Linked DNA regions of Homo sapiens: region 1 is linked to region 2. Evidence: fine-mapped QTL for protein levels in blood plasma. A gene starts in region 2. The other region holds a variant in brackets. All regions are shown on one strand. Distances are between the middles of the regions.

Region 1 (16,559 bases), 110 kb before region 2:
GGATAAAGAAACTGTGATATATGTATACCCCATATATATACCACGGAATACTACTCAGTCATAAACATGAATGAATTAATGGCATTTGCAGAAACCTGGATGGGTTTGGAGACTATTATGCTGAGTGAAATAACTCAGGAATGGAAAACCAAACATCATAGGTTCTCACTCATAAGTGGGAGCTAAGCTATGAGGATTCAAAGGCATAAGAATGATACAATGGACTGGGGACTCAGGGGGAAAAGGTGGGATGGGGTTGAGGGATAAAAGACTATAAATTAGGTTCAGTGTATACTGCTCAGGTGCTGGGTGAACCAAAGCCTCAAAATCACCACTAAAGAACTTCCATAACAAAATACCACCTGTTCCCCAAAAACTTATGAAAATAAAAAATAAAATAAAGTTGTTCCTTTCTTTCCCTTTTGTATCCACTAAGCTTCTTGAGCTTTTCTCCTCAAACCCTACCCACATCCCTGGAAACATCTTCACTATATATGTTTTATGTGTTACTGAAAGAAGTCAGGAAGGTAAAATCAGATTCATTTTAATGAATGAATAAAATAAAAATACATTAACATGGCTATAATGAAGTGACAGGGTTCAGGACTCACTACCTCAAAGTATGGCACCTTGGCATTTGAGGAAGCAGCAGAAGCAGAAACGTCACTCTCACCTTACCCTGCCCTTCTCTCCTGAAGCAAGCCATAAAAGAATTCTCTGAACTTCCTCTAAAGCAGGCCGTAAAGCCTTTACTTCAGAGTTCTTCTTCCTTTCCCCAAAGGAAATAAAATATCCTTATCATCAAAGACACAGAGAAGCTGAGAAGAACCTGAGCAAACATGCCTTGCTAAGTTCCCCCTCTGCCTAGTTTATTACCATTAGATCACACCCTTTGTCCTCTAATCATTTTTCTCCACAACTATCCATTCATCAAATTCAGCATAATATACACAGGTTTCCCTATTTTGGAGGGTCTCCTTTTCTGAAAGCTGCAGTATCATGTAAAATTTACATTAAATACATTTGTAGGTTTTTCTCTTGTTCATCTATTTTCATTATAGCTGCTTCTGCCATGAACCTTGTGATGAGTAAAGAAAAGGTATTAGTTTTTTTTTTCTTTTTTGGTTCTACAGAAGGCAGAAAGAAAAGAACAAATGAATCTTTCAAGGACTTGTTATGACTATAAGATAAACATTTATATTAACATTTTAGTTTCTTTTTATTCACTTCAGCCAAAAATATGAGTTTAAAACCATCAATAGATATAGATCCTTTTCAAAATCTCTCCATATGGTTGAACATGTAAAAAAATTGTTTTCCCTTTTAGGGGGCAATCAGATGAAAGAATTGATTAACATAATCTGTAAGTGGAAAAAAAAAGTAGATGTGGGTTATTGGAACAAGTCTATTTAAATATGAATGACCTAATGGGTTCTTAATTAAATCTGTATGCTAAAACTAAAGATTTTCTACTAATTAGAAAATGAACAGTTAACCCAGTAAAATATATAGAATTTTGAAATATCTTTCAATGTCTTTCAAAATTTTTATGAAAGTATCAAATTACTAGAGAGAAAAACATACATACATACACACACACACACACACACATATATTCGTGTGGGAGGCATGTCAAAGGCTTGACTTCTTCAATGGTCTCATTAAAAAGGAAAAACCTCTTGATTCTTTTGAGATAGTCTAGATAATTGAGTAAAGATAAGAGTTCTTATTTGGACAGAAGTCATATCATCTAGGACAAGAATACAATGAATATAAATTCTACAAAACTAAAGTTGAGGTTCTTAATAACAGGATAGCACATGCTGATGAAGGAATGGCAGAGGAATCCCCATCAAACTAATATGACTTTGAAAAATACTTTTTATCTGATGTCAACTTTCAATGTGTCTTTATTGCAAAACAAGCAAACAAGCAAAACAACAACAACAACAAAAACCCTGTAGTGGTCAGGGACAATGGCTCACACCTGTAATCCCAGCACTTTGGGAGGCTGAAGCAGGTGGATCACCCGAGGTCAGGAGTTCGAGATCAGCCTGGCCCACATGGTGAAACTCCGTCTCTACTAGAAAAATACAAAAAAAAAAAAAAAAAAAAAGAAAGAAAGAAAAAAATTCCAGGTGTGGTGGCACATGCCTGTAGTCTCAGCTATTTGGGAGACTGAGGCAGGAGAATCACTTGAACCTGGGAGGTGGAGGTTGCAGTGAGCCAAGATGGTGCCACTGCACCCCAGCCTGGGCAACAGAGTGAGACTCTGTCTCAAAAACAAACAAACAAACAAAAACCTGTAGTGCTTGTGCACTATGGGCAGAATTTCACTTGGTTTAATATCTTGTAATACTCTGTTCAAACAATCCAGTAACCACATCTTTGACAAAAATGAAAAAAAAAAAATACTCCTGGCTTTCATGTAATCTTTCTTTTGTAATTAAGAGAGACTTCAGTGAGTTTGAAATTTAGTTCTTTTACTTTTCTTTCCTTCTCATCTAGAATGGAAGGATAATGAATGGATCTCAGTAAAAACACTTCATGTATGTCAAATTATTACATTAAGCTTGTAAAAGGTAACACAATGACAACTCTAGAACGATACGTTTCCTGCTCAATAAATAAATATGGGCTTTGGTGTTTTCACTGCTTTGTATCTTATGTTTCTATTTTTCTTATTTAGTATGTTCTTTGGAACTATGATCTCACTGGAAGCTCAGGGGTTCTAGAAAATATTCCTGACAAAAGATAAGAATTTATTTTCTGAACTCCAAGCTTTGACCATGACTCAGAATTCCTGGTTCAGATCTATTGACTATGCTGAACAAAACATTATATAGAGTAGTCTCTAGACTACCTCATTCAAGTAATTCCTACCCTCAGCTTGGTTTAAAAAACACCTAGCAGTTTTTTAAAGAGAAAGGAAAACAGGAGGACGAAATGCCTGGCGTTCTGTGGACAAGGAACTTATAGATGTGGCACCAATGATCTTTTCCCCTATTTTCACCCCCCAGAAAAGGGCATTATATAGCTTTGGGCAGGTTAATTAACATCAAATTTTGGGCAGGTTAATTAACATCAAATCCTGTGTACTGCTTTAGCTGTAAGAATGAACATGGCTGCAGATATTTGTGATTTTTCTGATACTTCTTGGATTCTGACAGGCTGTTTTAGGGGACCACATATGGGCCTTACTTAGCCTTACTATACTGTGCATAAGAAGGTTTTACACCACAGTAGCTCCTACTCCTGGAGAGTGTTCGGTCCTCACTCCATTACTTGACATGGCTCCCACTGCAGTCATGCCTACCAGAAGCAGGCTTTCTGAATGCTCCTACGCCCTGAGGTTGCTACAGCAAAAGTAGGTGCTTGCCTTTTAAACCTCCTTTATTCTTAACAACCAGGCAGAGAAGAACTAATGACTCAACCACTTTCTGTAACATGGGAAATCATATTATCCTTCTAGTGTGGCCTCCCTATTTAAAAAATTCCACACTCAATGCCTAACCTTGGATATATTCAATACTGGGTTTTAACTTCTTTTCCAAGGGCATGTGATCATAGAAATATTCTGCTAAGAATTCTCCACAACTTTAGGGTGCCACTGTTTCCCTTTTCTTCATACTACTAAGAGGAGATAAGCACAGGAAGAATTTTATGATATGTTCTGTAAAGTACATCTTCAGAACTAAAGCGTTTAGAAGTATACCGAACTCAGGGCTAACTAGATTTCCTACATTATGCAAAATATTCTCTGAAAATGTTTGCTAGTTTCTTTTTTAAGGGAGGAGGATATTGTCAGTCCTCTGAGCCCAAGCCAAGCCATCGCATCCCCTGTGACCTGCACATATACGCCCAGATGGCCTGAAGTAACTAAAGAATCACAAAAGAAGTGAATATGCCCTGCCCCACCTTAACTGATGACATTCCACCACAAAAGAAGTGTAAATGGCCAGTCCTTGCCTTAACTGATGACATTACCTTGTGAAAGTCCTTTTCCTGGCTCATCCTGGCTCAAAAAGCTCCCCCACTGAGCACCTTGCGACCCCCACTCCTGCCCACTGAGCAACTTGCAACCCCCACTCCTACCCGCCAGAGAACAAACCCCCTTTGACTGTAATTTTCCTTTACCTACCCAAATCCTATAAAACAGCCCCACCCTTATCTCCCTTCACTGACTCTTTTCGGACTCAGCCCACCTGCACGCAGGTGATTAAAAGCTTTATTGCTCACACAAAGCCTGTTTGGTGGTCTCTTCACACGGACGCGCATAAAATTTGGTGCCGTGACTCGGATCGGGGGACCTCCCTTGGGAGATCAATCCCCTGTCCTCCTGCTCTTTGCTCCGTGAGAAAGATCCACCTACGACCTCAGGTCCTCGGACCGATCAGCTCAAGAAACATCTCACCAATTTCAAATCCGGTAAGTGGCCTCTTTTTACTCTCTTCTCCAACCTCCCTCACTATCCCTCAACCTCTTTCTCCTTTCAGTCTTGGTGCCACACTTCAGTCTCTCCCTTCTCTTAATTTCAATTCCTTTCATTTTCTGGTAGAGACAAAAGGGACATGTTTTATCCATGAACCCAAAACTCCGGCACCGGTCACGGACTGGGAAGGCAGCCTTCCCTTGGTGTTTAATCATTGCAGGGACGCCTCTCTGATTATACACTCACGTTTCAAGGGTGTCAGACCATGCAGGGATGCCTGCCTTGGTCCTTCACCCTTAGCGGCAAGTCCCGCTTTCCTGGGACAGGGGCAAGTACCCCTCAACCCCTTCTCCTTCACCCTTAGTGGCAAGTCCCGCTTTCCTAGGGGGCAAGAACCCCCCAATCGCTTATTTCCGCACCCCAACCTCTTATCTCTGTGCCACAATCCCTTATTTCCATGTCCCAACCCTTTCTCTGCTTTTCTGGAGGGGAAGAAACCCCCACCCCTTCTCCGTGTCTCTACTCTTTTCTCTGGGCTTGCCTCCTTCACTATGGGCAGGCTTCCACCTTCCATTCCTCTTTCTTCTCCCTTAGCCTGTATTCTTAAGAACTTAAAACCTCTTCAATTCTCACCTGACCTAAAATCTAAGCATCTTATTTTCTTCTGCAATGCCACTTGACCCCAATACAAACTCAACAGTAGTTCCAAATAGCCAGAAAACGGCACTTTCAATTTTTCCATCCTACAAGATCTAAATAATTCTTGTCGTAAAATGGGCAAATGGTCTGAGGTGCCTGACGTCCAGGCATTCTTTTACACATCAGTCCCTTCCTAGTCTCTGTGCCCAGTGCAACTCGTCCCAAATCTTCCTTCTTTCCCTCCCGCCTGTCCCTTCAGTACCAACCCCAAGTGTCATTGAGTCTTTCTAATCTTCCTTTTCTACAGACCCATCTGACCTCTCCCCTCCTCAACAGGCCGAGCTAGGTCCCAATTCTTCCTCAGCCTCCGCTCCTCCACCCTATAATCTTTTAATCGCCTCCCCTCCTCACACCTGCTCCGGCTTACAGTTTCGTTCCGTGACTAGGCCTCCCCCTCCTGACCAGCAATTTACTCTTAAAAAGGTGGCTGGAGCTAAAGGCATAGTCAAGGTTAATGCTCCTTTTTCTTTATCCCAAATCAGATGGCGTTTAGGGTCTTTTTCATCAAATATAAAAATCCAGCCCAGTTCATGACTTGTTTGGCAGCAACCCTGAGACACTTTACAGCCCTAGACCCTAAAAGGTCAAAAGGCCGTCTTATTCTCAATATACATTTTATTACCCAATCTGCTCCCGACATTAAATAAAACTCCAAAAACTGAAATCTGGCCCTCAAACCCCACAACAGGACTTAATTAACCTCACCTTCAAGGTGTGCAATAACAGAAAAAAGTTGCAATTCCTTGCCTCCACTGTGAGACAAACCCCAGCTACATCTCCAGCACACAAGACTTCCAAATGCCTGAACCGCAGCAGCCAAGTGTTCCTCCAGAACCTCCTCCCCCAGGAACTTGCTACACATGCCGGAAATCTGGCCACTGGGCCAAGGAATGCCCGCAGCCCGGGATTCCTCCTAAGCCGCGTCCCATCTGTGTGGGACCCCACTGAAAATCGGACTATTCAACTCACCTGGCAGCCACTCCCAGAGCTGCTGGAACTCTGGCCCAAGGCTCTCTGACTGACTCCTTCTTGGCTTACCGGCTGAAGACTGACACTGCCCGATCACCTCGGAAGCGCCCTAGACCATCATGGACGGCAAGCTTTGGGTAACTCTCACAGTGGAAGGTAAGCCTGTCCCCTTCTTAATCAATACGGAGGCTACTCATTTCACATTACCTTCTTTTCAAGGGCCTGTTTCCCTTGCCTCCATAACTGTTGTGGGTATTGACGGCCAGGCTTCTAAACCTCTTAAAACTCCCCAACTCTGGTGCCAACTTAGACAATACTCTTTAAAGCGCTCCTTTTTAGTTATCCCCACCTGCCCAGTTCCCTTATTAGGCTGAGACACTTTAACTAAATTATCTGCTTCCCTGACTATTCCTGGATTATAGCTACATCTCATTGCTGCCTTCCTTCCCAATCCAAAGCCTCCTTTG[T/C]GTCCTCCTCTTGTATCCCCCCAACCTTAACCCACAAGTATAAGATACCTCTACTCCCTCCTTGGCGACCAATCATGCACCCCTTCCCATCTCATTAAAACCTAATCACCCTTACCCCACTCAACAATATCCCATCCCACAGCACACTTTAAAAAGATTAAAGCCTGTTATCACTCGCCTGCTACAGCATGGCCTTTTAAAGCCTATAAACTCTCCTTACAATTCCCCCGTTTTACCTGTCCTAAAACCAGACAAGCCTTACAAGTTAGTTCAGGATCTGCGCCTTAGCAACCAAATTGTTTTGCTATGGTGCCAAACCCATATACTCTCCTATCCTCAATACCTCCCTCCACAATCCATTATTCTGTTCTGGATCTCAAACATGCTTTCTTTACTATTCCTTTGCACCCTTAATCCCAGCCTCTCTTTGCTTTCTCTTGGACTGACCCTGACACCCATCAAGCTCAGCAAATTACCTAGGCTGTACTGCCACAAAGCTCACAGACAGCCCCCGTTACTTCAATCAAGCCCAAATTTCTTCCTCAATTGTTACCTATCTCGGCATAATTCTCAAAACACACGTGCTTTCCCTGCTGATCGTGTCCGATTAATCTCCCAAACCTCAATCCCTTACAAAACAACAACTCCTTTCCTTCCTAGGCATGGTTAGTGTGGTCAGAATTCTTACACAAGAGCCAGGACCGCACCCTGTAGCCTTTCTGTCCAAACAACTTGACCTTACTGTTTTAGCCTAGCCCTCATGTCTGCAAGCAGCGGCTGCCGCTGCTTTAATACTTTTAGAGGCCCTCAAAATTGCAAACTATGCTCAACTCACTCTCTACATTTCTCATAACTTCCAAAATCTATTTTCTTCCTCATACCTGACGCATATACTTTCTGCTCCTGGCTCCTTCAGCTGTACTCACTCTTTGTTAAGTCCCACAATTACCATCGTTCCTGGCCCGGACTTCAAGCTGGCCTCCCACATTATTCCTGATACCACACCTGACCCCCACGACTGTATCTCTCTGATCCACCTGACATTCACCCCATTTCCCCATATTTCCTTCTTTCCTGTTCCTCACCCTGATCACGCTTGATTTATTGATGGCAGTTCCACCAGGCCTAATCGCCACATACCAGCAAAGGCAGGCTATGCTATAGTACAAGCCACTAGCCCGCCTCCCAGAACCTCTCATTTCCTTTCCATCGTGGAAATCTATCCTCAAGGAAATAACTTCTCAGTGTTCCATCTGCTATTCTACTACTCCTCAAGGATTATTCAGGCCCCCTCCCTTCCCTACACATCAAGCTCGAAGATTTGCCCCTACCCAGGACTGGCAAATTAGCTTTACTCAACATGCCCGGGTCAGGAAACTAAAATACCTCTTAGGCTAAATAGACACTTTCACTGAATAAGTAAAGGCCTTTCCTACAGGGTCTGAGAAGGCCTCCGCAGTCATTTCTTCCATTCTGTCAGACATAATTCCTCAGTTTAGCCTTCCCACCTCAATACAGTCTGATAACAGATAAGCCTTTATTAGTCAAATCAGCCAAGCAGTTTTTCAGGCTCTTAGTATTCAGTGAAACCTTTATATCCCTTACGGTCCTCCATCTTCAAGAAAGGTAGAATGGACTGAAGGTCTTTTAAAAACTCACCTCACCAAGCTCAGCCACCAAAAAGGACTGGACAATACTTTTATCACTTTCCCTTCTCAGAATTCAGGCCTGTCCTTGGAATGCTACAAGGTACAGCCCATTTAAGCTCCTGTATAGATGCTCCTTTTTATTAGGCCCCAGTCTCATTCCAGACACCAGACCAACTTAGACTGTGCCCCCAAAAAAAACTTGTCATCCCTACTATTTTCTGTCTAGTCATACTCCTATTCTCTGTTCTCAACTACTCATACATGCCCTGCTCTTGTTTACACTGCCAGTTTACACTGTTTATCCAAGCCATCACAGCTGATATCTCCTCGTGCTATCCCCAAACTGCCACTCTTAACTCTTGAAGTAACTAAATAATCTTTGGTGGCAGGACTATGCTGAATCTCCTTAGGCACTCTCTAATCAGATGTCCTAGGTCCTCCCAATTCTTAGACTTTTTATACCTGTTTTTCTCCTTATTCCATTTAGTTTTTCAGTTCATACAAAACCGTATCCAGGCCATCACCAATCATTCTATACAACAAATGTTTCTTCTAACAACCCCACAATATCACCCCTTACCACAAGATCTGCCTTCAGCTTAATCTGTCCCACTCTAGGTTCCCACACCACCCCTAATCCCGCTTGAAGCAGCCCTGAGAAACATCGTCCACTCTCTCTCCATACCACCCCCCAAAAATTTTCGCCGCCCCAACACTTCAACACTATTTTGTTTTATTTTTCTTAATAAGAAGGCAGGAATGTCAGGCCTCTGAGTCCAAGCCAAGCCGTCGCATCCCCTGTGACCTGCACGTATACGCCCAGATGGCCTGAAGTAACTAAAGAATCACAAAAGAAGTGAATATGCCCTGCCCCACCTTAACTGATGACATTCCACCACAAAAGAAGTGTAAATGGCCGGTCCTTGCCTTAACTGATGACATTACCTTGTGAAAGTCCTTTTCCTGGCTCATCCTGGCTCAAAAAGCTCCCCCACTGAGCACCTTGCGACCCCCACTCCTGCCCACCAGAGAACAAACCCCCTTTGACTGTAATTTTCCTTTACCTACCCAAATCCTATAAAACGGCCCCACCCTTATCTCCCTTTGCTGACTCTTTTCGGACTCAGCCCGCCTGCACCAGGTGATTAAAAGCTTTATTGCTCACACAAAGCCTGTTTGGTGGTCTCTTCACACGGACGCGCATGAAAGATATGTCAATCATGTGTTTTTAAAAAATGACTATTTCATAAAATGATGAATAGCTAATATGTACCATGAAGTATATATAATTCTTGGGTAATTTTCAAGAACTGGTTCTCATCTTCAGAGCCAATACTTTCCTTTTAATTATTCATCTGAATTAAATATATTTAAATTTAAATCTTTAGCTTGAAGGGGAAAAAGAATCCTGTGTACTGCTCTAGCTGTGACCAAGCCAATTATGCTAACATCAGCATCCAACGATCACAGCAGGAAACATACTGTCTTCTTTACATGCATGGGCTGACTGAATTCTTACAAAATCTCCATGAGGTAGGCATCACTATACATTCACATTCCATAGGTGAGAACAATTTGATGTTAATTAACCTCCTCAAAGCTATATAATTCTCTAAGAACTGAATCAGAATTCAAATAAAATCTTTCTGACTCCAAAATGAATGTAAAACATACGTAATGTAGCCCCTTCTAAAGGATATTTCTCAGAGCTTCAAGGCTGTTCTTACAGATCAGACACCTTTGTAGAATATTCTAAGACCCACATCTAAACATATTTCTGTGAAGTATCTAAGGAAATACCTAAAATTCATCTTTCAAATGGTAGTATCTGGTTTAAGGATTGCTCCTTATTTCACATAACCCTTAGTGGGTGTAATAGTTCATTCTTATGCTGCTGTAAAGAACCACCTGAGACTGTGAAATTTATGAAGAAAAGAGGTTTAGTTGACTCACAGTTCTGCAGGCTTAACAGGAAGCACGACGGGAAGCCTTCAGGAAACTTAAATCATGGTGTCAAGGAATCTTTGGGGTGTTGCTTTTCCAGCTGGAAATTCTGTGGCCAGTGGCACCTTTGCCTAAGTATTGCTCAGGCCTGCTGGGCTCATTCCACCCACTCGGCCTGGCAGGCTGTGCTCAGCTGTGCCACTGGCCTGGATCCCACACCTGCCAAGGGAGAGTCAGGCATAGAGCAGTGAGGAGTGTGTGAGCAAGCGTGGGATCTGGCCACTGCCCACAGCCAGGCATGCCAGCTGCGGAGAGGTGGGGAGCTCCAGGCACCAGCACGGGTGCCGGCTCTTTGTGAGGCTGTGGCTGGACCAGGCATACCACAAGTAGATTTCACTGTGAGCACCATGGAACTCGGGGCACCTGGACCCTTGGAGACACCAGGAACCGCAGACCCCCAAAGAGGGTGTCACTGCCCTGGCTCAGAGGGCCCCTAGGTCTGGGCTCCTGAAAGAACTGCAGCTCTTCTCTCTTTCCCATTGAGAGACAGGACTAGCTGGATTTCCTAGGCCGACTAAGAATCCCTAAGCCTAGCTGGGAAGGTGACGGCATCCACCTTTAAACACAGGGCTTGCAACTTAGCTCACACCCAACCAATCGGAGAGCTCACTAAAATGCTAATTAGGCAAAAACAGGAGGTAAAGAAATAGCCAATCATCTATTGCCTGAGAGCACAGCGGGAAGGACAAGGATCGGGATATAAACCCAGGCATTCAAGCCAGCAACGGCAACCCCCTTTGGGTCCCCTCCCCTTGTATGGGAGCTCTGTTTTCACTCTATTTCACTCTATTAAATCTTGCAACTGCACTCTTCTGGTCCGTGTTTGTTACGGCTCAAACTGAGCTTTCTCTTGCCATCCACCACTGCTGGTTTGTTGCGGTCGGAGACCGGCCGCTGACTTCCATCCCTCCGGATCCAGCAGGGTGTCCGCTGTGCTCCTGATCCAGCGAGGCGCCCATTGCCGCTCCTGATCGGGCTAAAGGCTTGCCATTGTTCCTGCATGGCTAAGTGCCTGGGTTCGTTCTAATCGAGCTGAACACTAGTCACTGGGTTCCACGGTTGTCTTCCATGACCCACGACTTCTAATAGAGCTATAACACTCACCGCATGGCCTAAGATTCCATTCCTTGGAATCCGTGAGGCCAATGAACCCCAGGTCAGAAAACACGAGGCTTGCCACCATCTTGGAAGTGGCCTACCACCATCTTGGGAGCTCTGGGAGCAAGGACCCCCGGTAACATCATTACCTGCAACATGGCAAGTAGGGCGGCATGTTTTAGTACTGTTTGTGTTACAGCTCTTTTAGTCCCACCATTCAGTGGGTCCTGAGTTCTTGTCCCGCATCCAGAAAAAAAATTAGGTATGTGGACAACTGGAGGGTGAGCAAGGTGAAGTGGAGCTTCACTGAGCTGCAGAACAGTTCTCAGGAAACCTACAGTTCCACATGCAGGTCATCCTGACAAGTGTCCAGTTTCTCTGCATAGAGGAGACTGCAGTGGGTAGCTCCTTCCCACAGCTGGTAGTCCCAAGTCTGTCCAAGTCTGGCTGAGTCTGGGGTTTTCATGGGTTCCAAAGGGAGGAAGTGCATGCTGATTGGTCCATAGATAGCCTTGGGAGGGCCTGGAGAAAGCACCATAAGTTCTCACTCCAGGCCAGGGACTCCACCCAGAACTGGAGGCTGGCCCCCAGGCTTGGAAGTGGGGTTTCATCAGGGACTCACCCCTTCCCACCCAGAAGCCTGCCTGCCACCATCAACACGCCATCCACGGCACCCAGGCTGCTCGTGCTAAAGGGTGCCTGTAAGGCTACGCCAAGCCACCCTCAACCCCCTTAGGCCTCCCTCCCATGCTCGTTGGTGCCCAAAGTCCAGAGGGGACCAAGGTGACAGGGGACTGCTGTGTTGGCATTGCCCCGAGCATGCACACACCTGGCCGGGTTGCAACAGTGCCTGGGCTCAGCTTCAACTTTGCTCCCAAATCAGAGTGGGCACCAGGAATGGGGAGAGGCCAGGCAGCAGGAGCAGGCATTTCTGAGCCTGCAGAGGAAGGAGGACTTCCCAGGCCCCTGAGAGCACAGGGCTGCCCTGGTTCTGCAGCCCCAGCTGCACAGCTGCAGCTGCACCCTGGGAGTGCAGAAGGGGGCAGGGCTCCCGCCAGTTCCCAGCTCCTGCTGGCTCTGCAGAGTGTGCAGTCCCGGCCTTGCCTCGCCCACTGCAGCTGATGTCCCTCACCCACTGCTGTCAATGGCAGAAGGTGAAGAGGAAACAAGGGTGGAGCAAGAGGGTGGGGGATGTGCCACACACTTTCAAATTATCAGATCACATGAGAACTCACTATCATAAGAACAGCAAGGGGGAAATCCACCCCCATGATCCAGTCACGTCCCACCAGGCCCCTCCCCTGACATGTGGGGATTACCATTAGAGATGATATTTGGGTGGGGACACAGAGCCAAATTGTATCAGCGGGAATATATTGAACCTTACCTGTTAATTTGCTCTGTCTTCTCACACACCTCTTTTTCTTTCATCTTGTCTCAGGAAAATAAATATTCTTTCTTCTTGCTTAGGAGTATTGCCATCCCTTTCTATTCCCTCCAAGGGCTCCAATAGTGCTCCTGAATACTCATGACTGGGCCCTTGCTTCTAAGTCTCTCTTTACCCGGAGCTACTTGGTCTTCCCCTGCTTCTTACATTCTATCTATTTGAGCAACAGGTCTCAAAGCTAAATAATTATATAAAACACTGCTCTAGCATTTTGCTCTCTCAAATAACCACCATCTCTCTTGCATCTTGAGTGTCTCCCTTGCTCCCTACTACAAACATAGTGAGCTACCTTGCTTTAAACTATTAGATAAGGCTATTAGATAAGATGACTGGGCATTTTTGCCTTTAACCTGAAACCATGAGACTTCCCCTTATCAAGCCTCAGTCCTTCAACCAGTCAGGATGTAGGTTGCTGTAGTGTTTCTAGAAGCTGTGAAGAACTGTTTTTTACACTACAAACCATTTGGTGATGAACAAGTTTTGGTTAGCCCCCTTATTTGATAATATGCTTCTCACAGTTATGTGACAATGTCTAAGATTTCACTAACAATATAGTGCAAATGAACTACCTTGCTCTAAGTGTGTGCTGGTGAATAAAATCATTGGTGAATAAGATCACATATGAGTTATATGATAATGCCTAAGATTTCACTAACATAGATTCCTTACTATGTATGGCTTTTCTCAAGCTCACTAATCCAAGGGCTAATAATTCTTCCTTGTAATTCATCCTTAAAGAGCTAAAGTTACGATTTTCTAGCATGTCTTTCATGTAAATACCCAGGGAATCATGTGAAATACATTTTATAATTCCCATTATTCCCATTTTTCAAGTGAGAAATCTAAAAGCCAGTAGGTTCTAGCAATTTTCTTAAGGCCACATATTTTGTACAAGCATTCAACATTACAGAAGTATCTGTGTCCATAATCTTTCTGGAACACCATGCTTAAATGTTTTTTGCAAATAAGAAAATTAAAATGGTTTCTGCAAAAGGTTAGTTGTTTGCTCCTATTAGCTGTTTGTTATTTAAACAGGTATATCACTCAGGACTCTTTCGGTTACAAGTAACAGTAAATACAAATTAGCTTAAGCAAGAGCATTGACTAATCTGGCTGAAAGTTCTAGTGTCAGTTTCTAGAGAAATTTGATATCATTGTTAAGTATCTCACTGCCAGATAGGATCCATTGTGTCCATGATTTTGCCACTGAAGATCATTGATCTTATTTTGCATAATTCCAGGAATGAAAGAAAGAATCCTTTCCATAAAGCTCAAAAATTCCCATAATGCAGTTTTGGGAGCTCTTTCTAGACCTGAAGGATGAGAAACTGGTCATGTTACCTCCTAGGAGAAAGTTCCAGGAAAAGGAAATAGTATGTGGGAAAACCCTAAGGTCAAAAAGAGCTCGGGTTCTTCACAGAACTGAGAGAAGCCCATCACAAGAGGAAGATAACTAGGAGAGTAGTGGCTAAAGATGAAGGTGGATTAGTTAAAAAAAAAATACATATGGCATATATATATATATATATATATGAGCCCACATACATATATATGGGCCGTTTGAACCACATAAGACATGATGAAACCTTGTTCGTTCATTTAAGGTTAATGTCTAGCTGGCAGGAGATCTTAAACAAGGATATGATTTGTTCTCATTCAGACTTTGAGAAGATTAATTACTGTGAATCTTGGAAATGTGGGCAAGTTTGAGAGGATCAGCTAATAGGGAATTTCAGCTAGCCATGAGAAAAAAGATCACAGCTTAGATTAAAGTGGCAAGAGAGGGTTGGAAGAAGTAGAGAGAAATAAGAAAATTAGGAGGCAGATGATTAGGGCTTAGTAATTACTTGTGTGTGGTGGACCTTTGTCTAGGGAGAGAATGTAAAACAGACTAATAGTTTGAAACAAAAGTACAGATATTTATTGATTGCCTGGGAGACTTTACATCTTTCAATACCTCTAAGCAGAGCTTGACTTCCTCAATGCCACGGTCCAGACAACTTTATCTATAATCTCCTGGTTGCTTCATACTTTTATACTACATGCCTAGGACCTGAAAGTTGTTGAGTTTGGGTTTCCTGGTATAGAAAGAAAAAAAAAAAAGAAGGGCCTACTACTTAGTCCTTACAATAATCAAAATTTGTCAATTACAAGAGAAGTTACCAACAAAGACTCAGAAGTAGCTGTCAAGGGGATGGAAGGAGAATCAAGAAAGGCTTGTTGTATTTCATTGAACCAAGTGAAGATAGTGTTTTAAGAAGGAAGAGATTCTCAACTGTGCAGCAGTTTTGCTCAGAAAGCAGTCAAGATGAGAGATCAAACATAAAATGGAAGATGTTCAAAATGTCTGATGATATGGTAACACAGAAGATAAAAACAAAGGTTATTAAAACATATCAATATAAATATTTGACTTATAAAATGAAAGTTGCTGCTTGTAATGGGCTGAACCGTGTCACTCTAAAAAATTCCGATGTTGAACTCCTAACTTACAATATCTCAGAATGTGACTGTATTTGGAGATAATGATCTTTAAATGGACAATTAAGTTAAAACACTCTCATTAGGCTAATCCAATTTGACTGGTGTCCTTACAGAAAGAGAAAATTAGGGCACAAACACACATAGAAGAAAGACCATGTGAAGACAGGAAGATGGCCACCTACAGCCAGGAAAAGAGGCTTCAGAAAATGTCAACTCTGCTGGCATCTTGATCTCAGACTTATAACCTCCGTGAGAAAATAAATTTATGTTGTTTAAGCCACCCAGTCTATGGTACTTTGTTACGGCAGCATTGGCAAACTAATTCACTGGTGATTTTAACAAAAGGAACGTCGGTAAAGTGATGGAAGCAGAAAACAGATTTGAGTGAGAAGAAGAACTGATAGGAATCAGAAAATAAGGAAAGCAAGTACCTAGATCTTTCTAGTCATATTTATCCTATGAATAACCCAAATAATAGTCTATTTCTTGGTTTTAACTTTAAGAAGCTTATATGTAGCATTGAATTATCTCTTACACATTCAAAAACCCGATCTAAAATTTGAAAACTAAATATGCTATGTACAGATTCCTATGAAAGATAAAAAGTATTTAATTTTGATTTTGGAAAATATTTTATATGCATGGATATTTGAATGTGTGCATCTTTACTAGCAAATATTTAATATTTCCTTAAGATACTCTAATTTGAGATAAGTGACATTCAGATTGGGGCTAGGATGAAGTTCTTTTCATTTCCTACAAGGAATATTATAGTAGATTATAACTAAATTTAGACATTATATTTTCTAAATCAAACGTAGGCATACGTTTTTTATCACCTTGCCTGATAACAGGACATACAGTGGAAATTAGAATGATTCCCAAACATCTGTGCCATGTGGTTACTGCTGTTACTTAGGGAGTTATGAAGATCTATGAATAGGAGAAGGCAAGAAGGAAGTAAAACATCTTATCCAATGTAAGGGCTATTATAATCAAGGGATAATTCTTTTATAAATAGAATATGACACTATCACACAAAGTCAAGACCAAGATGTCAGACAAATGTAAGGACACAGGCAAGTTCAGCCCACACCAGGGAAGCAACAGGAATGATATGTGTACTAGGCTTATGCATATGACTTCCCAGCCAACCAGAAGGGGATTCAGTAAGCTGACAGCCAATTGTATAGTTTAAGTTAAAATTTCTGTTTCAAGCCTTGTAGAAATGAATGTGGTTTGAATCACACAAACATTTTTTAAGACTTGGGACACGCATCTCAAGATCTGGCATATGTGCAAGTAGTCCA
Region 2 (14,882 bases):
ACAGTACATATAGCTGTTTTCAATACCAAAAAATAGTAAGTATGTGAGATAGTGCATATATTAATCAGCTTGATTTAGCCATTCTACAATGTATATGTATATCAGAATATTATGTTATACACCAAAAATATATACATTTTACTTATCAATTTAAAATTTAAAAATTTTTAAATTTTCCAAGAGAGAAACTTTGTATTTCAAAATTAATAAAACTAGAAATATAAATATAAAATTAAAATCCTCAACAAACAATCCAAATCCAATAACAGATAACTAAGTTTTATTAATCATCAGGAATGCAAAGTTGGTTCAATATGAGGATCAATCAATTATAATAAACTAATTTAATAAAATAAGGACAGAAGCCATATAATCATCTCAATTGATGCAGAAAAGGCATTTTCTGCATCAAAATTCAACACCCTTTTATGATAAAAATGCTTAACAAACCAGGATAGAAGGAAGCTTCCTCAACTGATAAGGAATATTCTTGAAAAACCCACAGCTAACATCATTCTTACTGATGAATAACTGAAGTATTTACTTTTAAGATCAGGAACAAGAAAAGTATGTACGCTCTCACTGCTTCTATTCAACATTGTACTGAAAATTTGTAGTCAGGGCAATTAGGCAAGAAATAAAATAATAAAGACTTCCATATTAAATAGGAAGAAGTAAACTTATATCCAGTTGCTGACATGATTTTGAATGTAGAAAATACTAAGTATTTTTAAAAACCTATCGAAGCTTATAAATGAGTTCAGCCAGTTTGCAGAATACAAGATCAATCAAGTTGATAATTTCTATAAATTATCAAAAAACAATCCAGAAATAAAATTAAGAAAACTGATCCTTTTACTATAGCATCAAAAAGAATAAAATACTTAGGAATAAATTTAACAAAAGAAGCATAAAGAAGTATAAGATTTGTATACTGAAAACATGGAAAAAATTAATAAAAACCTAAATAAATGGAAAGACACCATGTGTTTATGGATTAGAAGATTTAATTGTTAAAATAGCAATGCCCCCAAACCGATCTATAGATTCAATGCAATCTTTATCAAAGTTGCAACTTCCTTTTTGTGTTATTGTCACAGAAATTGACTAGCTGATCCTAGAATTCATATGGAAATGCAAGGAACTTAAAGTGGCCAGAATAGCCTAGAAAAAGAACAAAGTTGGAGGACTCACACTTCCTAATTCTAAAAGTTGCTCCAAAATTACAGTAATTAAAACAGTGTGCTGCTCCTATAAAAATAGACACATAGCTCAATGGAATAGAAATGAGAGTCCAGAAATAAACCCTCACAGTTTTGGTCAACTGATTTTAAAGAGTATGCCATGACAAATCAATAGGGGAAAGAGTCGTCTTCAACAAATGTTGGTGGGACAACTGGTTATCCACATGCAAAAGATGAAGTTGGACTCGTATCTCATATCTTATAAAAAGTAACTCAAAACGGACCAAGCACCTAAATGTACAAACTATAAAACTCCTAGAAGAAAAAAGGTATACATCTTCATGACCTTAAATTAAGCAATATTATTTTAGAAATAACATCAAAAGTACAAGCAATCAAAGAAAAAAATGAATTAATTGGACTTTATAAAAATTGAAAACTTTTGTTATAACGGAGAGAATCAAGAAAGTGAAAAAGGGAATTCATAGAATCAGAGAAAATATTTGCAAATCATATGTCTGATAAAGGATTAGTATCCAAAATGTGTAAAGAACACTAACGATAAAACTATAGATAATCTAATTTTTTAAATAGGCAAAGGATAGACAATTTTTCACATAAAATATATAAGTGGCCAATAAGCACATGAAGACATGCTCAACATTATTAGTCATTATTAGTCATTAGGAATATACAAACCCAAATCACAATAATATACCACTTCCCACTTACTAGAATAGCTATGATCAAACAAGACAATAACAAGTGTTGATGAGAATGTGGAGAAATTGACACCTTCATGCATTGCTTATGGAAATGTAAAATGGTGTATCTGTTTTGGGAAAAGTTTTAGCAATTACTCAAATTGTTAAAAATATAATTAAAATATAACCCAGCAATATCATGCCTAGGTATACACACAAAAGAATTGAGAATGTCCATAAAACTACTTGTATAGTACTGTGCTTAGCAGCACAATTCACAATAGCCCAAAAGTGGAAACCACCCAAATGTGCATCAACTCTTTATCAACAGATAAACAGAAGTGTTATGGCCATGCAAAAGAACACGACTGAGTCATAAAAAAGGAATGAAGTACTTATGCTTGCTACAACATGAATGCGCCTTGAAAATATTATGCCAAGTAAAAGAAGTCAGTCATAAAGCGCTGCATGGTGTATGCTTCCATTGATATGACATGTCCAAAATAAGCCAATCCATAGAGACTGAGGAGAAGGAAGAATGGAAAGTGGACTGCTAATGGTTGTAGAGTTTCATTTTGTGGTGATAAAAATGTGGAAATTCGTGGCAATGGTTGTACCACTGTAAATATGCTAAACCTCACTGGATTGTACTCTTTATAAGAGTGAATTTTGTGATATCTGAATTATAACAAAATTTAAAAAGTAAAACATGAAAAAGATAAGCTATGTCAATCTTAACCAAAAGAAATCTGAAATTATTTTATTAATATTACACAAAGTAAACTTCAGAAAAGCAATATTACCTGGAAAGGAGGGATAGTAACCATTTTACAGGGAACAATTCAGCAAGAAGACAGAAAATCCTACTTGCATATATATATTATTTTGGAGGTTCAAAATGCATGATGGAAAATCTAATAGAATGGAAAAGAAAAATGACAAATCTACAATTTTGGTCGGATATTTCAACACTCTTGCCTCCACTTATAAATGGAATAAAGCACAGGGGTTGGGCTGGAATAAAAAGAAAATATGTAAGAATATTGATACAAACAATATTAAGCAAATTTATACAACTGGCAGTTTTAAACACTCAACAGCAGTAGGTACATATTGTTTCTTTACAGATTTATTGGGATATAATTTACACACCATAAAATTCACCTATTGTTAGTGTATAGTTTGACGCATTTTACTAGGTTTAGGTGATTGTGCCCCCATAACAATAATATGGTCTTAGAACACTAGGATGACCACAATAAGTTCTCTTATGAGGCTTATAGTGAATTGTTGCTCACACTCTTAGGCCTCAGGCAACCAGTGATATCCATTTTGTTTCAACAGTTTAGCCTCTTTAAATTTCATACGAATGAATTCATGTAGTAAGTAGTCTTTTGCATCTGATTTCTCTAACTTAGTAAAATCTCTTGGAATTTTATCCCACTTGTTGCATGTATCAGTATTCTGTCCCTTAAATTGTGTGCATTATTCTAGTGTAGAAATATATCACAAATTATTTATTCATTCACTACTTCATGGGCATTTTGATAAATTCCTATTTTCAGCTATTACGAATTGTGCTGCTATGAACATTGAGATGAACAACTTGATGTAGACATATGTTTTCATTTATTTTGGGTAGATGGCTGGGAGTAGAATACTTAGGTCATATGGCAAGTGCATGTTTAAATTTTTAAGAAGCTTACTAACTGCTTCCTAGAGTAGATCGCTATGTCTTGAGTATGGCCCCTTAAGTTCATGTGTTGGGAACTTAATCTCCAATGCAACAGTGCAGAGAGGTCGGACCTTTAAGAGGTCATTAGCTCATGAAGGTTTTGCCCTCATGAATGAATTAATGCTGTTATTGCAGGAGTGGGTTAATTATCAAGAGGGTGGGTTCCTGATGAAAAAAGAGTTCAGCACCTCACCCTCCACCCCAACCCCTATGTGTGATATTGCCCTTCTGCTTTCTGGTAGAGAATGATGTGTCAGGAAGGCCCTCACCAGATGCAAGCCTCTCCACTTGGGACTTCTCAGACTCCGGAACTGTAAGCAATAAATCTTTCTTCTTTATAAATTACCCAGTCTCAGAAATTCTGTTACAGTAGCACAAAACAGACTAAGATGTGGGTGTACAATCTTACACTCTTACCAGTGATGTATGAGAATTCCAGTTTTCTTCCCACCCATATCAGTACTTGATATTGTCTCTCTCTCTCTCTCTTTTTTTTTTTTTTTGTAGCCTTTCTATTGTGTATGTTGTGGTATGTCATTGTGGTTTGAATTTGCATTTTCCTAATGGTTACTGATATTAACACCTTTTTTGTTCTTAACAGCCTTTACTATATCTTCTGTGGTAAAGTGTCTATTCAAATATTTTGCCTTTTGCAAGGGTAGGATGTGATGTTTATCTCTTTATTATTAAGTTTGAGAGTTCTTTATAATTTCTGGATACAAGTCTTTTATAGGACATAATGATTTGGAAGTATTTACTCCCAGTTTTTGGCTTGCCAATTTTTTTCTGAACGGAATCTTTTCGAGAGCAAAAGCTTTTAATATTAAAGATATCTATTTTTTTCCATTTTTGATAATCCTTTAGGTGACATACCAAAGAAGTTTTTGCCTAATTTGAATCACAAATATTTTCTTCTATGTTTTTTCCTAGTTTTAAAACTTTATCTCTTATATTTGGGTATCTCACCCATTTTAAGTCAACTTTTGATATACATTTTTAGGATCACATAGAATATTAGTCAAGATAGACCCTATGGCCATAAAACAAGCCTCAATACATATAAGAGAATAAAAATCATATGAAATATGCTTTCTGCTACAATTGAATTAAATTTATAATTTAAATTTTAATTTAATTTAATAAATATATTTATAATTTATATTTAATTTATAATATAAATATATAATTATAATATAAATTTATAATTTAATTTAATTTATAATTTAAATTTAAATTATAGAATATATATTCTAAACCAATATATAATCTAAACAAATATATAAAATTTTATTTATTTATTATGGGAATTGGCTCATATGATCACAGAGGCCAAAAAATCCCATGGTCTGTCATCTGCAAGCTGGAGAACAAGGAAAGCAAGTGTTGTAATTTAGTCCCAGTCTGAAGGTCTGAAAACCAGGAAAGCTGATGGTGTAATTTCCAGTTGAGCACAAAGGCTTAAGAACCACAAAAGGGGGCACTGATTTAAGTCCCAGAACATGTATCTTTGAAGGCAGAACAAGGTGAATGTCCCTGCTGAAGAAGAGAAAGTGAATTTGTGCTTTCTCTACCTTTTTGTGTATTCGGGTCCTTAATGTATTAGATAATGACCATCCACCTTGGTGAAGGTGATCTTCTTTACTCAATTCATCAATTCAAATGGTAGTCTCTTTTGGAAATATTCTTACAGACATTTAAAACATCAAAAACATTAGAAATGTTTTTTCTAGCATTCTGGGCATCCCTTACCCCAGTCAGGTTGACACATAAATTAACCATCACAGTTAGCGTATTTCAAATGTACATGTATATTCAAATTAAATAATCACAAAGGAATAATAATAAATTTTGAAGTAAATTATAATGAAAACACAGCATATCAAAATTTGGGAAATGTAGATAATGCAGTGCCTACAGAAAAATGTATCATTTTAATGCTTATATTATGAGGAGAAAACCTAACTCAATGATTTATCCTAATATATAAGCCAAAGTAGAAGTATGAGAAGAAATTAAGTAATATTTTGAACTAAATAAAATGAAAATATAACCTATCAAACTTGTGGAATGCAGCAAAAGCAGGGTCTAGAGGTCAAAAAGTTAAAATCATATGATCACATCAATAAGTGTAGAAAAATATTTGAGAAAATCAAGCCTCCATTCATTTTTATCATTAGAAAACTAGGAATAAAAAGACATTTTCACTACCTGATAAAGAACAACTACAAGTAACCTACATCTAGCATTATATTTAACAGAGAGAAACTAGATACTTCCCCCTAAGACTGGAAACAAGGTAGGGATATCCTTCTCATCTCTCCTATTAACATCTTAATAAAAGTCCTAGCTAATGCAATAAGACAAGAAAAGTAAATTAAAACTCACAGATTAGAAAGGTAGAAAAAAATTATCCTTATTTGCAGGTAACATGTTCGTCTATGTAGAAAATTCCAAAGAATGAACAAACAACAATAAAACTTCTGGAACTATTAAGAGATAATAGCAAGATTGCAGGTAACAAGGTGAATATACAAAAATCAATCGCATTATTATACACCAGCAATGGGCAATTGAAATTAAAAATTAAAAACATAATACCATTTACATTAACACCAAAAAGCTGAAATATTTAGGTTTAAATTAACAAATTATGTACAAGATATATATGAGAATAACTATAAAACCCTGATGAAAGAAATCAAAGATCTAAATAAATGAATGTGGGAAGGCTCAATATTGTCAATATCTCAGTTCTTCTCAACTTGATATGTAAATTAAATGCAATCTCAATCAAAATCTCAGCAAGTTACTTTGTGGATATCTACAAACTTATCCTACAGTGATATGGAAAAGAGAACCAGAATGTCCAACACAATGTGTAAGTAGAAGAACAAGTTAGAGGACTGACACTATCCAATATTAATATTTACTATAAAACTATAGTAATGAAGACAGTGCAGTACTGGCAAAAACAAACAAACCAAAACAGACAAATAGACCAATAGAACAGAATAGAAAATGCAGAAATAGACCTGCACAAATATAGTAAATTGATCTTTGACAAAGAAAGAAAGGCAATACAATGGAGAGAAGATAATTTTTTCAACAAATGATGCTTAAACAATTGGACATGTGAAAGCAAAAAAATGAATCTAGATGCTAATCTTACCTCTTCCACAAAAATTAACTCAAAATTAATTATAGGCCTAAATGTAAAACACAAAGCAATTAAACTTTAATAGATAACATAAGAGAAAATCCTTGTGACCTTGTACTTGGTAATGAGTTTTTAGATACAAAACTAAAAGACAATCTATGAAAAACAAATTAATAAATTGGACTTCATTAAGATTAAAAAGCTCTTCTCTGTGAATATCACTATTAAGAAGATGAAAAGGTAAGCCACAGATTTGGAGAAAACATTTGTGAAACACATATTCGATAAAGGACTTGAATACAAAATATAAAGAAACTCTTGAAACTCAACAATAAGAAAATATGTAATTTAAAAAATGGGTAAAATATTTGAATAACTACTATACCAAGGAACATATACAGGCAGCAAATAAGCATATAAGGTGATGCTCAAAATTATATGTTACTAGGAAACTGCAAATTCAAACAACGAGATACCACTAATGCCTACTAGAACAGGTAAAATTCAAACACTGACAACAGCAAATGCTCTTGAGGACATGAAACAAAAGGAATTTTAATTCATCACCAGAGGAAAGGTGCAGCCACTTTGGAAGACAGTTTGGCAGTTTCTTACAAAGCTAAACATAATCTACCCTACAATCCAGAAATTGTGCTTCAGGTATTTACCCAAATGGGTTGAAAACTTATGTCAGCACAAAAACCTGAACATGAATGTTTACAGCAACTTTGTGCTTGCCAAAATTAGAAGCAAATAAAATGTACTTCAATAGCTGAATGGATAAACAAACTATGGGACATTTATACAATGGAATAACATTTAGTGATAAAATGAGCTATCAAGCCATGAAAGGGTATGAGGAATCTTAAATATTTACTGTTAAATGAAAGAAGAAAAGCTATATACCACATAATTTCAACTATATAACATTTGTGGGGTATTGAAAGACTGTAGGGAGGAATAAATGGAGTACAGTGTATTTTTTAAGGCAGTGAAAATATCTTGTATAATACCACAATGATGGGCACATGACACTATATATCTGGCAATACCCACAAAACTGTACAATACCAAGAGTGAACCATAATATAAATTGTGAGCTTTAATTAATAATAATGCCTCAATATTGGTTCCTCAATTTTAACAAAGGTACGTCACCCATGCAAGATGCAAATAGTAGGAGAAACCATGGGCAGGGGAAAGGAAATGCATGGAAACTCTCTGTACTTTCTGTTCTGTTTTTCTTTAAATGTAAAACTGCTTTAAGAAATAAAGCTTATTAATAATGTATATATTTTTCAAAAACTTCAAAAAATCTAATTAAATAGAGATCTATACCATGTTCATTGATTGGAAGACTCAATATTTTTAAGACAGCAATTCTGCCAAAATTGATCTACAGACCTGAGAAAATTCCAAAGAAAACATAATTTTTACTTAAATTGACAAGTTGACATCAATATTTGTATGGAAATGCAAAAGACTACAAGAGCCAAAAGAAATTTGTAAAAGAAGAATAAGATTGTATTACTTGCCATGTCTGATTATAAGATTTACCATAAAGCTAGAGTAATCAAAATAATGTGAAATTGTCATAAGAATCAATGACATGGCAGAGTTCAGGAACAGACCTATATATATATGACCAATTGATTTCTGACAAAGATGTTATGGTCATTCAATGAAGAAAGGATGGTCTTTTCACAAAATAATTCTGGAACAACTGATATCTATACGGAAAAAAATAATCAGTAATACCTTATATCATATCTACTAATTTGAAATAGATCATAGAAATTAAAACTATCAAATTTCTAGAAGAGAACAGAAAAAAAGTAGCTCTGGAGTAAATGAAAGATTTCTTAGATATGACCAAAAAAAACACAAAGCATAAAAAGAAAATTTGATTGAGGAAATAGGGCTTTATCAAAATTAAAGGAGTTCGCACTTCCAAAAGATGACATTTAGAAAATGAAATGCAAACAAAAAATTGGAGGAAAATATTATCAAAATATATTCCTTATATATTCCTTGTATATTGGAAGATACACAACCCAATTAAAAATTAGCAAAATATTAGAACAGACACTTCACAACACAAAATCTGATGCAAGAATAACCAACAAGAACACAGAGACATATTGGCATCATTGGTCATCAAGGAAATTTGGTTCTTCTCAATAATTTTAGTTTTTCTACTGAAATTCTCTATTTTTTTCACTTATATTTCCTTTACTTAATTGAGTATATTTATAGTAGCTGATTTTAACACTTTTCTATTAATTCCAACATCTGGGTCATCTAAAAATTAATTTCTGTTGATTGTCTTTTTTTCTTGAAACTGGGCCACATTTTCCTGGTTCTTTGAATGTTGAATAGCTTTCGGTGGTATCCTGGATGTTAAGTTGTGAAGACTCTGGATTTCATTATATCACTCCAGTGTTGAAGTTTTTGTTTTACTACTCATTTAATTTGGTTAGATTCACATTGCAACATTTGTCACTCGGGTAGCAACTCAAACCTCAGCTCAGTATTTGGTTATTGTTTTTGTTTGTTTTAATCTTTAACTGGGAAGCATTGAATCTGTTCCATATACACATGATTCAGGGATAAAGTGGAGATTTGTGCGTAGATTATACCTAGAAATTTGGACTATTCCAGTGTCTCTTCTTTTCAGTCTTCTATTTTCACTTTCCATCTCAGGACATTGTCCCAAACTCTATACTCTATTTCAGGAAAACTGTAATTTTTCTATGACTGTTTGCCCCTGGCAATACTGTGTGCAATCTTCTCTCAAGTTAAAAGGCATTGAATGTGCCATTCCTTCTTCCAAGCGTTGATTCCCCTTTAAAATATGCCTGTTTTGTTTACATTCCAGTGCTTTCTGGTTTTGGTTGTTTCACCCCTACAGGAGATGTTATCTGGGGGATGGTAAGGTCTAGTAAAAGTCTACTCAGCAGTACTGAAAACTTATACTTCAATAGTTTCTTAAAATGTTAAGCATTGTAATCCCAGCACTTTGGGAGGCCGAGGCGGGTGGATCATGAGGTCAGGAGATAGAGACCATCCTGGCTAACAAGGTGAAACCCCGTCTCTACTAAAAATACAAAAAATTAGCCGGGCGCGGTGGCGGGCGCCTGTAGTCCCAGCTACTCGGGAGGCTGAGGCAGGAGAATGGCGTGAACCCGGGAAGCGGAGCTTGCAGTGAGCCGAGATTGAGCCACTGCAGTCCGCAGTCCGGCCTGGGCGACAGAGCGAGACTCCGTCTCAAAAAAAAAAAAAAAAAAAATGTCAAGCATATATCTACCATTCGACCCAGAAATTTCGCTCTTGGGTATATGACTAAAAGAAACAACAACATATCCACAAAAAATCTTATATAAAAGTTCATAACAACCTTATTACTAACAAGCAGAAACTGAAAATAACCCCAAATGTCCACTAATTAGAAAATGGATATACAAAATATGGTATATCCATACAATAAAATACTACTGAACAATAAAAAGGAATAAACTGCAGATAACTTACAAAATAAAGAATACATCTCAAAAGTAATATGTGTGCAAAAGAAGCCAGATGTAGAATAATATATATTGTCTGAATCCTTTTATAGGAATTCCAAGAATATGCAAAGTGAAGCCACAGAGAAACATAATCAAAAGTGTAGTTACCTCTATGGGTTGGGGCTGAAGGTGTAGATTGAACATTTCTGATCTGTGCTTTTAACTGAATGTAAATTATACCTCAACAAAATTTTTGAACAGAATGATACATTTATGGTCCAGAAGAAGTCAATGGTAATTTCACCACCTGTTCAATGAACTAGGCATAGAATTGGAAATGGGAGACCATACTACAAAGCTCATTTTTAAATTTTAAAGCCATTGCAATGGTCAAAACTTGTGAAACATGATAGAAATTTTGATAGATGTGCCTCTAGTCATCCATAGAGAAAAGGTCAAGAAATTAAAAACAAAACACAAAAAGCCCATTTCACACATAGAAGGTAAAAGACTTATGTGTGTCTGCTCTTCAGTGTCATACCTGCATCTTGCATCCACATCTTTTCTATGATGGGCTGCACATTGTATCAGCATTGTTTGTGTATGTATGAACCTTGCTCATTGTTTCTCTAGGGGCCACTTAATTAATGTTCATCAACTTAATAAGCAAATCCTCAGCTGAGCTATAATTTCTCATAGCTTTATAAAACTAAAGTGACCTTAGGTGGCATGTGGTTGAGTCTCCTCATTTGCTAATAAAAATATTGAGGTTCAAAATGGTAGAGAGATGTACCCAAGGTCACACAAGCAGGGAACAGCAAATATGGGCCCTCAGATCTGACTTGAAGTCTGGTGCTCTTAACACTATGCAGTACAACCTCCTCAAAGGCTCACCTACTCCTTGACTCTCTGGGGAGAAGGTTTCATTACTTCCTATATACCAGTAGACCTTTCTCTAATCAGTAGAAATACATTTATTCTGATGGTTTTCTGACTGAGAAACTATCAGAAGTCCTGTCCCTGAGAAAAGGGTATGGTTGTTTATGTACGTAATCCTCCGGGCCAAATAAATACAAATCAAGAATTTAGCCTGAAGACAAGACAAGTAATTGTGGAAATCAATATTGGCAGGCTCTTTCTATCTGTGGTTTACTTTTTGGAGTCCAGCACTGTATTAGTCAAGGCTTCTTCAGTTGAAAATGACAGGAATCCAACTACAGCAAGCTTAGAAAAGAAACAAAAATCTATTGGCTTGAAAAATGGCATTTCTACCTTGAGACGTAGCAGGATCCATGGAGTCTTTCAAGTGTTCTTTCTCCATCTCTCAGCATTGCTTTTCTGCATGGAAGGAAATACAGTCACTGACAACTCTATACCTATACCATCCGATTCACTATTGTTCATATGACACATCTCATGGAAAAAAGCCTGATTGGAAATATTTGGGACATATGACCACCCTGTATCAATCACTATACATTAGGAGAACAGGTTCTACTATAGAGTTAGCCAGGGTCACATGTCCACCTCTGAGAAAGAGAAGAGAGGCACACATTTTACTAGCATATGGGGAATCATATGAAAAGGATCATTACTCTAAGGAAGGGATGCTTTGCTGAGGGAAAAAAAAAAGTTCACTTCAACACAAAGATCCCTCCTTAAACCAGAAGCCTAAACATATGGAGTCCCCTCCTAAAGTTGTTTGACATCCCAGGGCACTGACTCCTGCAAACTGTATTTCTTAGGCTGCTTTGTCAACTGACTTTCTTCTAGGTTCACCCAATGACAGGGTTTTGAAATACAGGTTAAAGGAGGGCCACAATATTTCTTTTCACTCTCAGCTTTTGGAGGACCCTCCAGCATTATCTGTCTCCCAGTAAGCATCTCCACTGTGGTCTCAGTTCCTTTAATGTAGCTTGTGCTCCTCATTCCTGGTAAAGCCTCCTCTCTAGCACTCCCCAGCCTGAGAGTGGTAGTACTTTCCTGCTAGTAACTATCATCGTGTTGCCTCATCATCCCCTAGTTGGCTTTTTAGTCATTTGAATCCTTTGTAATTTGTTCCCCATATTAAATTCTCTCTATTGAATTACAACATATAGATGCTATTTTTCTGAAAGAACTCTAAGATGTGTGTCGAGAGGAGGCAATCTCCCATATAAGGACCAGGTTCCCCAAAGAGAAAAGCCATTAGAGTTTGGCTGCCTCAGCTAATCTTAAAGTGGAGGAAAAAACAAACAAACAAACAAACAAACAAAAACAAAAAGTGCTGAGGAACACTGTACTTTAAACTATCAGAGAAATAATGTCTTTTTTATTGCTGTTTTTTAGAGACAGGGTCTCACTCTGTCACCCAGGCTGGAGTGCAGTGGTGTAATCATAACTCACTGCACCCTCAAACTTCTGGCTTCAAGCGATACTCCCTCCTGAGCTGCTGGGATTACAGGTGTGAGCCACCGCTCCTGGCCCTGGAAAATTACTCTCATTGAGCACCTGCGCCTGCATGCCTGGTCATGAATGTCAGCTGCTAACACTCTGGTAGCATGCCTACTCCTTCCTCCCATCCACATACTGTCTATGATTTCCTAGTCTCCTAAGACCTCCTTCTCAGTAAGGCCATCTTCCGAGGAGGAGCATCAACTCCTCCAACCTCCCAGCTCCTGGGTGTGCCTTGATACTTCCAAACTCACTGCAAGCGTCACTGGCACATGGTATGAAGCAGAGCGGGGGAGGCAGGACACAGAGCACTGGGTGTGACTGGGGAGGGCAGGCTTTCACAGCTTCCTCTGTGATGGTTTCTAATCCTTGCAGGCTCCCACCATTGGGTCTCTTTCCATCTGAAAATGGAGGAAATTAGACCAGCTGCCTAAAACATCAACTCTAATGTTCTAGGTTCTAAGATTCTGTGGTTAATTTAAGTGACAGAACCACATTATGGCTGCTGTTTCATCAGCACTGTGAAGACTGTACAAGCCACACCTCAGTATGTTGGCTGACCTTAAAAACACCTTGTCAGTACTTGATATAGACACTCGAAGTAATTCTAAGTTGCATCTTACTTTTCTTACTTACAATAAAATGCTGCTCTCTGATTATGAAGATTCATACTCCTTAGTACGAATGGTAAAGAATCATTTGTTTTCTCAGGTGGTCATTTCACTTTCAAAAGCATTTAAGAGGCAATTTTTTTAAGGGTGATATTTCAAGGTCAACACTTTCCGTGCTTTCTAATTCATTGTATTTGTATCATTCTTCAAAGATCCTTCATATTCATTATCTTTTTAAGCATAAGAGAATTGGGCTGTCATTTTTAGTTCTCATATGACACATGAATACACTGAGAGTTAGATTAAGTGAACTGTCTCTAGAGCATACGTCTGGCTATCTAGAATGTAATAACTATAAAGGGAGGGGATCTTTCTTATTAGGGTTGTGGGAAAGGTCTGTCACTGATGTTTCTAATGCTTAGAAGAGTGCCTGACACATAGTAGGTGTCAATAAACATTCGTTGACTCAATAAATGAATGAATCTAATTCGTGACAGAGCTGGGTCTAGAATTCTCTACTCCCTCAGCCATTGCTCCTTTAGTGCTGACAAGAGTTGTTCTATGTTCTCAAGCGCCCCACATTCCTTTGTCTTTTCTGGATGCACCTGTGGTTGGGTTTGTGAGGCGAGGCCAGTGAGCTTTCCTGGTGAGGTGCCACTGGCAACCCCGCCTCATAGCGACACAGGGGAGGGAAGCAGGGGGTCTGCGGAGGTTGCTCCCGAGAGACTAAAGCTGTTGCCCCCGATTTTCCAAGGACGCCAGTGAGGAAGGCCCGCCTGTCCCGCCGCCCGGGCACTGGCCTCACTTTGTCGCGGGAGGGGACCAGGGCTCTGGAGAAGGCCCGGGCCAGCGGCTGGGCGGGGCTCTCCGAGGCTCCCACCTCGCGGTCCCCGCCTGGCGGCCGGCGGCTGCGGCAGAAGGCGAAGCGGTCGTGCTCCCCCTCCCGGACACTGCGGCGGTGGCAGCGCCAGCCCCGCCGCGGCCGCCCACGGGCTCGCGGAGTCTGGCGGGACCTGCGCGGGGCGGGACCTGCGCGGGGCGGGGAGGAGGGGCCGAGGCGGAGCTGCTGCGCTGGGAGCCGGCTGGGGGCGCCGCTCTCAGTCTGGGGCGGGCGCTCGGGCTGCGCGGGCTCTGGGCAGCAGCAGCAGCAGCAGCAGCATCCTCTCTTCCTTTACTTCCCTTCCGCTTCTTTCTCTTCCTTCTCCTTCTTTTTCCCCCCCCTCCCCTTCTTCCCCTAACCCTTCTACCCCTCTCCTTTTTCTCCGGAGGGCGCTAAGTCCGTGAGCGGTGGCAGTCGCGACCGCGGGTGCATCCAGTTTCTGCGCCCAGGTAAGAGACCGTCCCCACCTCTGGCTCTATGTAGGGCGCCTCTCCTTTTGCCTCGGTCTCTGAGTAGAAAGAGATAGGAATGGGGAGGGGTTGTGTCTCGTCCTCTGGGACTCGCAGCAGGCAGTCTGGTAGTTGGTCGAGTGGCCAGCCGTGCACCTGGCGGAAGATTCGGGCCTGTCCTCTCCAGGTGTCACTGCGGAGCAGGGGGCCGGACGCTACTGGT

Direction of the effects. Positions count from the first base shown, and alleles are read on the strand shown. Strength reflects both the effect of a copy and how common the allele is.
For the plasma level of the protein whose gene starts at base 14,430 in region 2, allele T in region 1 goes with a lower level than allele C (weak association).

The links. A credible set is the group of variants that fine-mapping cannot tell apart. PIP is the chance, under the fine-mapping model, that this variant and not a neighbour inherited with it causes the effect. The UK Biobank Pharma Proteomics Project read protein levels with antibody pairs (Olink). The fine-mapping took linkage between variants from a reference panel, not from the people measured, so its PIPs are less certain.
Region 1: its variant is the best candidate, but not a certain one, in a credible set for the plasma level of the MAP2 protein (UK Biobank, PIP 0.79).

The regions. Positions count from the first base shown.
Region 1 is chr2:209,295,511-209,312,069 of GRCh38, forward strand. No RefSeq gene overlaps it. Among named protein-coding and RNA genes, the nearest start is that of MAP2, 120 kb to the right of the region's middle. RefSeq lists enhancers at 3,399-4,058, 4,059-4,718, 8,720-9,719, 9,720-10,718. The variant T/C (reference allele first, on the strand shown) is at 6,568.
Region 2 is chr2:209,409,618-209,424,499 of GRCh38, forward strand. It overlaps MAP2 (microtubule associated protein 2), which reads left to right and starts at 14,430. Exons shown (of 16, transcript NM_001375505.1): 1 at 14,430-14,659. RefSeq lists a silencer at 14,111-14,500.